Regions from separate parts of the Homo sapiens genome. Here region 1 is linked to region 2. Evidence: fine-mapped expression QTL. A gene starts in region 2. The other region holds a variant in brackets. All regions are shown on one strand. Distances are from middle to middle.

Region 1 (5,372 bases), 110 kb before region 2:
CTTCCACTCCTCTGTCACGGGGCCCCGGAACTCGAGAGTAGGCCACACCGCCCCCCAGCTGGGCATGGGGCTTCGGCAGGAAACTGAACTTGATCTTGAGGCCCCAGAAAGGCAGCAACTGGAGCAGAAGCAAGACTTCATCTCTTGCTGACAGCCCAATTTGTCAATAGCGCTTTCCTCAGAGCCAGCCTTAACCTGCTGTTGAGTCCATTAAAACGTTTGCTTAAAGTTTTTACCAATAATTAGATCATCAGGGTTGTTTAGTGTGGGATCAAGCCATAACAAAACTGCCTAGCCTCTCAGGGGCCTAGAATTTACAGAACCTTCCTCCTCCCTGCAGCTAGTCTCTCTTCTTTATTCTGGGGGCTGGGAAGGATCCCAAAACAGGGAACTTGGCCGAACCCTGGGCTTTGGATGCTAACCACTGAAGTACCAGCACCTGTAGGATGCTGTCTTTGAAGAAACTGAGGCGGACCTCCAAATGCAGCCCTAAGGCAGAGGTCAACGTGGAAGACCAGCCCTTCTCCAAGCCCCACTGGTCTTTGCAAGCTGTACGTTGTAGGCAATCTGAGAACTGGAAAGGGGGACTACAACCAGAAAGTTGGTTACCCTGCCATGGGAATAAAGTAGCTGTTTTCCACCCCACATATCAGGCCTTTTATTCTTTTCTGAGTTCTGATTTTATTTATAGGAATCCTCTTACAGATGCCAATATTGTAAGTCTCTTTTAATGATACATTAATAAGCCACCTTCATGGGGGGAAAACTGTGATTCGATAAAGGACAGAAATCAATCAATTGCTGTTTGTTTAGTCATTTAGCAGACATTTCTTGAACACCTACTCTGTTCCAGGCCTCTGTTCCAGTGTCCAGTGTGTGACTCTGGGGGTACAGCAAAACAGCATGCTCTTTACTCTCTTGGAGTTCACATTCTGTTTTCTAGTGGGGACCCAGCGACTCTCCGCTACCCCTGCCCCTCACTGAAGAGGCAGTATTTAGGAATTACAGAATCCTAGGCTCATATCCAGCTTTGTCACTCACTAGATGTGGGACATCAGGGAATTTACTTACCTTCTCTGAGCCTCAGAGCCCTCATCTATTCAAAAGAAGCAATGAAGCCCTCCAGAGCAGGGTTGGTTGAAGAAGTAAGTGTAGGGTTGGGGAGGTGAGCTGGCCTGGTACAGAGTGGGTGAGCAGTGACTTGGGAGTGGGAGAGCAGAGAGGATGCCGTCCCCTCCTCCAGAAGGCCTGACTGTTCTGGGCCTGACTCTCTGGACCTCCCGACCCCAGGCTGCAGCTGGGGTAGCCTCAGTTCAGAGTGACAATCCGCAGCCATGTTCATATCCCTACTCCATACTAGGCTCTTGATGAGGGTGCTGCATTCTGTGTAAGGGGAACCTGTTGCCTCCCCACCATGGCCTGGACAGCTGAGGAGTCACCAGCTCCATGTTAGAGATGGGGAAACTGAGGCTCAGCCAAGGTCTTGAGGTGCCTCTTGGGAGGGAGAATGTCTCTCCCCAGATAGCTGTCCTTCCCACACCAGTCACTAGGGGGCGACAGGGATGCAGCAGAACTGAATTTCATGGGCTCTCCTTACCATCCTAGGTGCCCCTCCCTGCAGACACCCCAGAGCTAGGAGGATGGGGTAGGAGTGGTGTGGCCCCAAGGCCTCTGCACCGCAGGAGAAGGCAGTAGACCACAGGCCTGGGAGAAGAGGGAAAAGCAGGAGTAGAGGTAGGGATTAGAGAAGCCCCTGGGGCTTCTCTCACTCTAGGGGGACTGGGCTCAGGCCCTGCCTCTCTCTCCTCTCTCTCTCTCTCTCTCTCTCTCTCTCTCTCTATTCATTCCTTTCACTCCTTGTGTTTGCACCTGTGTCTCTCAGTATCTCCTTTCTCTCTGGCTTTGTGGATTTCCTTGTTTCTGCCTGCTCAGTGATTCTCACTTTCTCCGTATACTACGTGTGTGTGTGTGTGTGTGTGTGTGTGTGTCTGTGTCTGTGTCTCTGTGTTTCTGTGTGTGTATGTCTCTGTGTGTCTGTGTATGTGCTTGTGTGTGTGTCTGTGTGTATGCCTATGTGTCTGTGTGTGTCTGTCTCTGTGTATAT[G/C]TGTGTGTGTGCTTATGTCTGTGTGTGTGTGTCTGTGTGTGTGTCTGTGTCTGTGTGTCTCTGTGTGTCTGTACGTGTATGTCTGTGTGTCTCTGTGTGTCTGTACGTGTATGTCTGTGTGTCTCTCTGTGAGTGTCTGAGAGGCTCTGGGTGTCTCTGTCCGTTGTGTCTGCCTCTGTCTTATCTTTGTCTCTCCCTCTTTCTCCCTCTTGTGATGTCTCTACCTCTCTCTGTCTCTATCTCTTTTTTCCCTGTCTCTGTTTCATATGTTTCTGCCTCTGTCTCATTTTGTTTTTGTCTCTGTCCCGCTCAGTTTCACATCCTGTCCCTCCCCAGCCACCACCACCCAGCACACGTGGGCTGAGGGTCTCAGTCCCTTCCTTCCCAACTCCTCATCCCTGGCAGCTGCTCGGCTTCCCACTACTGGCCTCTCCTGCCCGCCTCTTTTGGGCCTTGTGGGAGTGGGGCGAGGGAGGAGGGGAGGATGGCTCAGCAGACCCACCCCTTTTTGCCTTTCCAGGCTGGGAGGCTGGGCCAGTGGACCTTTTAACCAGCCTGGGCAGGCTATTCCGGACGCCAGCCCTGGAAGCTGAGCCTGACCCAGCAGGTCCCAGCAGCCTGGCAGCCCGGCCAGCATGCAGCAGCAGCCTCTGCCCGGGCCTGGCGCCCCCACAACTGAGCCAACCAAGCCTCCCTACAGCTACATCGCCCTTATTGCTATGGCCATCCAGAGCTCACCGGGGCAGCGGGCCACCCTCAGTGGCATCTACCGCTACATCATGGGCCGATTCGCCTTCTACCGCCACAACCGGCCCGGCTGGCAGAACAGCATCCGCCACAACCTGTCACTCAACGAGTGCTTTGTCAAGGTGCCCCGCGATGACCGCAAGCCAGGCAAGGGCAGCTACTGGACGCTGGACCCTGACTGCCACGACATGTTTGAGCACGGCAGCTTCCTACGCCGCCGCCGCCGCTTCACCCGGCAGACAGGTGCTGAGGGCACCCGGGGCCCCGCCAAGGCACGCCGTGGACCCCTCAGGGCGACCAGCCAGGACCCAGGAGTCCCCAACGCCACGACCGGCAGGCAGTGCTCATTCCCACCAGAGCTGCCAGATCCCAAGGGCCTAAGCTTTGGGGGTCTGGTGGGGGCCATGCCAGCCAGTATGTGCCCAGCAACCACTGATGGCAGGCCTCGGCCACCCATGGAGCCCAAAGAGATTTCCACGCCCAAGCCTGCATGCCCAGGGGAGCTCCCCGTGGCCACCTCATCTTCCTCATGCCCAGCGTTTGGCTTTCCTGCCGGCTTCTCAGAGGCTGAGAGTTTTAATAAGGCCCCTACGCCCGTCTTGTCCCCGGAATCAGGCATCGGGAGCAGCTACCAGTGTCGGCTGCAGGCACTGAATTTTTGCATGGGGGCTGACCCAGGCCTTGAGCACCTCTTGGCCTCAGCAGCCCCCTCCCCTGCACCACCCACCCCTCCAGGCTCACTCCGGGCCCCACTGCCCCTGCCAACTGACCACAAGGAACCCTGGGTTGCAGGTGGCTTCCCTGTCCAGGGAGGCTCCGGCTACCCATTGGGGCTGACCCCCTGCCTATACCGGACGCCAGGAATGTTCTTCTTTGAGTAAAGGCAGCCTCACCTCGGGCAGTCCCTGCAGGTCCCTCACCCTCCGGGCTGAGCCTGGCTCTAGGACCTGAAGAACTCTCGAAGGACCCAGCCCTGGTGAGCCAAGGACAACCACACAGAAAGCCAGGATTGAAGCGGTGCTCAGCCAGGCCCCTGGGGCCTCCGGACAAACTTGGGGGTGAGGGGAAGCAGGGCCTCTTGGGATTTACTCTGTGGCTCTCAGGGCCAATAAAGCCATGTGATGATGAGGGTCAGCTTGCCTGATGGCTGGGGGCTGAGGGCCAGGGTGCCTGCTTGTATGTGGGGGTGGCTGTGGCTGTGGGGTTGTGCAGCGGGGGCAGAGACCCTTGGTGGGAATATCTCACATGAGGTTTTCTCCTGCTGGGGACTTTCTCAGGGAGTTTCCTAGAAAGGGAGAGGAAGGGGAGGTAGGGAATGGGGAGCAGGGAGAGGAGGATACAGGCAAGGGAGAGACTGGGCAGGGGCAAGACTGGGCTGGCCTGAGGGACTGATTCTCCAGTCTCAGATGCTGGGACTTAGCCCCCGTAGGTGCAGTCATCATAACCCTGACAATTTGTGACACTGATCCTGTCCCGGGCTTGTATGTATCATCTCACCTGTGTGATTTGGAAAGTTGGCCCCGTTTACAGTGGTGGAAACAGGCTCGCCAGCTCCAACTCCAGAGGGCAAATGGGTGGCAGAGGGTAAATCAAAACCACATCTGTGTGGCTCTACCCTCCAGCCTCTGACCTGCAGCTTGAGTGAGGACATAAGGGTGGAGAAGAGGGTCAGGGCAGAGCTGGTGGTGGCCCCCAGAGGTGGGAGGGCTTTGCTGCAATCCTGGAAGGCCAGGGCTAGAAAGGCACCCTTTACCCATTGTGCAGACAGGGCACCTAGGGTTCAAAAGGCAGCACCTACCCCCTGTTTGGACTTCCCACATTAATGTGGGAGCTTCCCTGAGCCCCCAGCTCCATGAGGTCCTCTGGTGACTCTTTAAGACGGCATTTCTTGGGGCCAGCAGCATGGGCTGTGACTGTCCTAGGTACCATTCAGAAGTGACTGAGCCCTGACCTTTGACCTTCTCTGACTATCCCTTCGCGAGGAAGCAGGAGAAATGGGGATATTCTTGGTCCTCGTTAGAGGAACAGAGAAGGAATCTGAAACATCGCTGTCCTCACAGACCCCAGCACTGGAGGAGCAGAGGCGAATGGCTTCCTCCCCAGAGCCTCAGTCCTCCTATCTGGATCATGGGCATAGGGAGAGGAGGGAGGGATGCTGGGGCACCCCCATTCTGGTTTTTGGCATGTGGTCTAGAGTGTCTTATGTCCCACGAGGTTACACTCAGGGGGCTGGAGACCCCTTCTTGGGCAGGCAGCCCTCTCCCCTCCAGAGGCCCTCCCTTGCCCAGGCAGCCCCGAGGACTCCAGCCTTTGCTGCTCCCTCCTCCCCCGACAGGTCCCCTGGGGCCTGGGAGGAAGCGAGCCCGGCTGGACAGCCCGAACTGTCTGGTTCCCACAGTCTCAGAGCTGGGGTGGAGGAGGACCTGCAGGGTGAGAGGGGCTGGGAAAACGCCTGGCCAGCTGTGGGGCCCCTCCCCACCATGCCTGCTGAACCCCAGCCTGGAACCCATCAAACAATGGG
Region 2 (5,372 bases):
TGGCTCACGCCTATAATCCCAGCACTTTGGGAGGCCAAGGCAGGTGGATCACTTGAGGTCAGGAGTTCAAGACCAGCCTGGCCAACATGGTGAAACCCCATCTCTACTAAAAATACAAAAATTAGCCAGGCATGGTGGTGCACGCCTGCAATCCCAGCTACTCGGGACACTGAGGCAGGAGAATCGCTTGAACCTGGGAAGCGGAAGCTTCAGTGAGCCAAGATTGCGCCAGCCAGTGCACTCCAGCCTGAGCAACACAGTGAGACTGTCTCAAAAAAAAAAAAAAAAAAAGAGCAAACTTTTACTACTTTGTTTTACTAAGTACAAATAACATTATTTTTAATTTCCAAAGTAACCTCTAGATACAATTTTATACTTTTCTCACTGTTCTTTATTCCCCTTTTACCAAGTTTCCCTACACAAACAAAAACGGAAGCCCTCCGCAGTTATCTATCCTTTTTTCACAGAGTACCTTGGGCTGCTGATCTCTACATCTCTGTCTCAAATACAGATCTATTCACAGAATCGCTTGGGTTATGAAATCTCTCTAAGGCCAGGCAAGGTGGCTCACACCTGTAATCCCAGCACTTTGGGAGGCCGAGGCAGGTGGATCACCTGAGATAAGGAGTTTGAGACTAGCCTGGCCAACGTGGTGAAACCCTGTATCTACTAAAAATACAAAAATTAGGCCAGGCACAGTGGCTCACACCTGTAATCCCAGCACTTTGGGAGGCCGAGGCAGGCAGATTACGAGGTCAGGAGATTGAGACCATCCTGGCTAACATGGTGAAACCCCATCTCTATTAAAAATACAAAAAAACTAGCCGGGTGTGGTGGCATGCGCCTGTAGTCCCAGCTACTTGGGAGGCTGAGGCAGGAGAATTGCTTGAACCCAGGAGGCGGAGGTTGCAGTGAGCCGAGAGCGCACCATTGCACTCCAGCCTAGGTAACAAAGTGAGATGCCATCTCAAAAAAAAAATACAAAAATTAGCCGGGTGTGGTGGCAGATCCCTATAATCCCAGCTACTCAAGAGACTGAGGTAGGAGAATTGCTTGAACAGGGGAGGCAGAAGTTGCAGTGAGCTGAAATCGCGCCACTGCACTCCAGCCTGGGCGACAGAGTGAGACTCCGTCTCAAAAAAAAAAAACAAAAACAAAAACAAAAAAAACAACTCTATAGTCAATTTTGCTTCCTAACTTTGCCCATAGCAAAGAAAATTAAGTATGTCAAAGGGCATTTAAATATCCCTCCTCTTTCTCCCAGGAACTCAAAGAGAATTAGGGAAGAGACACAGAAAAAGCTGAAGGAAAATTAACCAGGAGATGTAGATGAGCCCTGAACATCTCCTGGTAACTAAAGAAATGAAATGAAGGACTCTCTCACATAATCCTGGACAAACTTAATTGCAATAAATTAATTTTATCAAGGTTGGAATACACAGATTTATGCATAAGGTTGGCCAAATAAACCCTATTCAGATAATTTGAAAGTCTAAACAAATTTACCAACCTAGTTGAATACAATCCAGTTTTTCATACCCGCAATTTTGTAGTCAATTCAGATAGTGCCTTCCTGCCTACTCAATTCAACAGGTATTTAGTGGGTGATTCCTATGCACTAGGATTGTTTCAGTCCCTGTCTAACCAAACTCTGGTTATCAAGAATTAGACAAGGGTGGCTTTGTGAAGCACAGAAACACAAACTGGCTCTTGAACTCCCTCACCTCTAAATTGTCCAGACACCTAGAATACAAAACAGTAGAGCACCCAGATGGTGTCCTATCTTGCTCTGATTCTCACTTGCCAATTTCAAACCATGTTTTTGTCCCCAAACATACCAAAAAACGTTTGAGTACATCATATATCTGTACACCCATAATATCTCATGCCAATCTGAGCACAGTACCCTCAAAGGTCAACTAAATGGCTGAGTTAGCTGACAGCCACATAATTTTGATCCAAGAATGCCAGCTTAATACTGAACTGACTCACCCAAACCAACCAGGGGGACTCAAGTCTGACGTGGGGGTGATGTAATACACTAAGGCCACAATACAAGAATATCCTTACTACAGCAGCAAGTAGTCCTATTTTTGACAACATTTGATGAGTGAGAGAAATTCAAAGAGAGGCCACAGGATGTCAAGAAAAGGTAAGGGTGAAGCAGGAAGTAAACCAAGAGCTGGTCTTAAAGCAAAATCCAGGAGTCAAAAATCCTCTTCTATCCTAAGTAGGCCTGATTTGGGGGGAGTCCATGTTACTGAACTACTAGAAAATTATATGTGGAAAACCAGACGTTATATGTCAAGAAAATAGGGGGTAAACCAATTCTACATTATAACCTGGTTTGGTTTTCCTTCCCCCCTCCAATCTATAAATGTTGAGAAAGGAAATGAGAAAGGGAATAATATCTGGTGATTCCATACAAAAAGAGAGCTGGACAAATATGGATAACATATAATGAATTTTAAATCCCAAATAGAAGACAACTCCAAGTGGACTTAAACTCTCCCTCAATTATGTTCTCACACCATCTAATTATCTTCCTGTTTTAGACAACAGTTTTGAAATGTACTTATTTGTGACTACCTCTGTTTTCCTCCATCAAACGCCACACTTCCTGAGGGCATGGCTACTGTATCACCCATTTCTCGAAATTTATCTAGATTCTGGGCCTCAGTTTCCTCCTCCTTCCTCCTTCCTCAGTTTCTGTCAAGAGGGACCAAGAATAGCACCAACTACATTGGCTTGGCGAGGAAATTAAATGAGAACGGGCATGCAGGGTGCTTAGTTCAGTCAATGTTTATAACCTGTTAGCATGGTAATAACAATAATTATCGTTACCGTTATTAGCCGACAGCCTCCCGCAACTCTTTTTTTCCTCCGTTTCCCGGACGGACTTCACAGCAAAATCCTGTCGCCAAGAGAAGCGTGGCCCGAAGCCCCTGCTCGCACCCTGCCCCGCCTAGGCGGCGACCGAGCACCGCAACCGCCTCAGAAGCCAGGCCTAGCGGCGCGAACGGCGCTAGGGGCTGGAAGGTGAACTTCAGCCGTTCCAAACTCCGGGAGGAGGGAGACCCGCGCCCTAGCTGCTCCCTCTTTTCTTCCCACGGCTCACCTAGCCTCGCCTCAGATCTGACAACGAAGCGCGAGCCAACCCGCCGCGGGACTCATTCAGTATCGTTGAAATTTTGAACCCAGGCAGCCTAGTCGAATGCACCAATCAGAGCGCCGGGAAAGCAATTCCAGGCTCCCGATTGGCCCTACAGACCGCAGCAATACCGGAAGTCAGAAGGAGGTACCAGCGAACAACGCGGCCCGGAGTTCCTGGGAAGTGTAGTCTCCTGCGCCTGCGTGAGTCCACTGGAACAGCTCTTAGGAGTACGTTATTACAAAGACCGGAGTGCTCTGCTCCAAACTATTTGGGAAAGGTGGTACCAACTGAAGAGGTGGAGAGTCAACCTAGATCACAGAATGGCGCGCATCCTGGACCTCTCCAAGTTTTCAGGGAAGAAAACTCTATTTTTAAAAATTATTCTCGTTATGGTTGTGCATTATCCCTTGAAGGTTCAGGGAGTTCACTTCGTCTTAACATGGAGTCGCCTGCATGCAACATAGACTCGCCCGTAGCGTCCTTCCCAATAGTGCAGGAGTCTTTGAAACCTTTTACCCAGTCCCTGCCCTGATCTTATGAAACCCGCGGTTCGTTGGGAGCTTTATCCGGTTTTATTCCCAACTGCATCCCGGCTTTATGATCCCCATGTCGTAAAAAGAAAACAAAGTCTAGGAGAAGTTGAACAAACATGTCCAAAATCACATAATAAATGGAGAAGATGGGATTCGAATTAAGAAGGTCTGTTCTTTTTATACACCACCGATAATTAATTAGAGGCCGGGCTTCGTGGCGCTCACCTATAATCCCAGCTCCACAGGAGGCTAAAGCAGAAGGATCCCTTGAGACCAAGAGTTCCAGAACAGCGTAGACATCATAACGAGACCACCCCCACCATCTTAATTTTTTTTAATCAATTAGAAAATAGCAGCAACAAGAACAACAAAACAACCCCCTTCATAATACCAGCAAAAGCTAAAGATTCAAAAATTAAGCCTAGGCTGGGTGCGGTAGCTCACGCATGTAATCCCAGCACTTTGGGAGGCCGAGACAGGCAGATCACTTGAGGCGATGAGTTCGAGACCAGCCTGGCCAAAATGTTGAAACCCCCCCCCATCTCTACTAAAAATACAAAAATTAGCCGGGCGTGCTCGCGCGTGCCTGTAATCACAGCTACTTGGGAGGTTGAGGCAGGAGAATCACTTGAACCCAGGAGGCGGAGGTTGCAGTGAGCCAAGATTGCACCACTGCACTCCAGCCTGGGCAACAGAGCGAGACTCTGTCTCAAAACAAAAAAAAAAAGGTCAAGGCAATTCCAATGAAAGTCCCAGTGGGTTCTGTTCTGGAATTTGCCAAGTTAATTCTAAAGTTCCTATGGAAGAGTACAAGTACTGGCATCTTGAATTTTGAAAAAGATTGGGGGATTTATGTACAGATTTTGTACATATTAACATGAAATTATAGTAATTTTTAAAGTATGGTTCAGTTAATTCACACCCATGGGGGTGCAATCGGCAAAATCCAGACAGGAAAACCACAGGACAATTTAGTTCCTTCAAAACATAAACTGCCAGAGTTTGGTTTTGTTTTCTTTTTGTTGTTGTTGTTTTGTTTCATTTTGTTTTTTGAGACGGAGTTTCGTTCTTGTAGCCCAGGCTGGAGTGCAACGGTGTGATCTCAGCTCACTGCAACCTCCGCCTCCCGGTTTCTCCTGCCTCAGCCTCCCAAGTACCCGGGATTAAAAATGCGCCACCACACCCGGCTAATTTTTATATTTTTTGATAGAGACGGGGTTTCACCATGTTGACCAGGCTAGTCTCGAACACCTGACCTCGGGTGATGCCCCCGCCTCACCCTCCCAAGTGCTGGGACTACAGGTGTGAGCCACCACACCTTTTGTTTTCTTTTTTAAGAGTCCTTGTGTTGTAGAGATACATATAGATACGGTAGGGATGAAATTACTCTGGCACTGGCTTCCAAATAATTGGGAGTAGGCAGTGAAGATAAGTAGGTGGGGATTTAGATGAAACAAGATTAGCTACAAATTGATAATTGTTGAACCTGGTGATGGGTTCATGATACATAAATACATACATATACTCTTGTATGAGTTTGAAATTTTCCACAATTAAAATGGGGTGGTTGCCTGGTGCTACTTGGAAGGCTGAGGCAGGAGAATCACTTAAACCCAGGAGGCAGAGGTTGCAGTGAGCCAAGATGGTGCCATTGCACTCCAGCCTGGGCGACAGAGCAAGACTCT

Direction of the effects. Alleles are on the strand shown, and positions count from the first base shown. SD is a standard deviation of normalised expression in the study named.
As copies of C replace G in region 1, the expression in subcutaneous fat of the gene that starts at base 3,176 in region 2 goes up (moderate effect, 0.56 SD a copy in FUSION).

What was found. PIP is the estimated chance that this variant, and not a neighbour inherited with it, causes the effect. A credible set is the group of variants that fine-mapping cannot tell apart.
Region 1: its variant is the best candidate, but not a certain one, in a credible set for the expression of TPX2 in subcutaneous fat (FUSION, PIP 0.60).

The regions. Positions count from the first base shown.
Region 1 is chr20:31,842,910-31,848,281 of GRCh38, reverse strand. FOXS1 (forkhead box S1) reads left to right here and starts at 2,678. Exons shown (of 1, transcript NM_004118.4): 1 at 2,678-3,979. The coding sequence starts at 2,740. The coding sequence ends at 3,732. It also overlaps a transcript of DUSP15 not described here. RefSeq lists an enhancer at 2,737-3,294. The variant G/C (reference allele first, on the strand shown) is at 2,105.
Region 2 is chr20:31,737,094-31,742,465 of GRCh38, reverse strand. TPX2 (TPX2 microtubule nucleation factor) reads right to left here and starts at 3,176. Exons shown (of 18, transcript NM_012112.5): 1 at 2,845-3,176. RefSeq lists enhancers at 2,864-3,023, 3,114-3,163.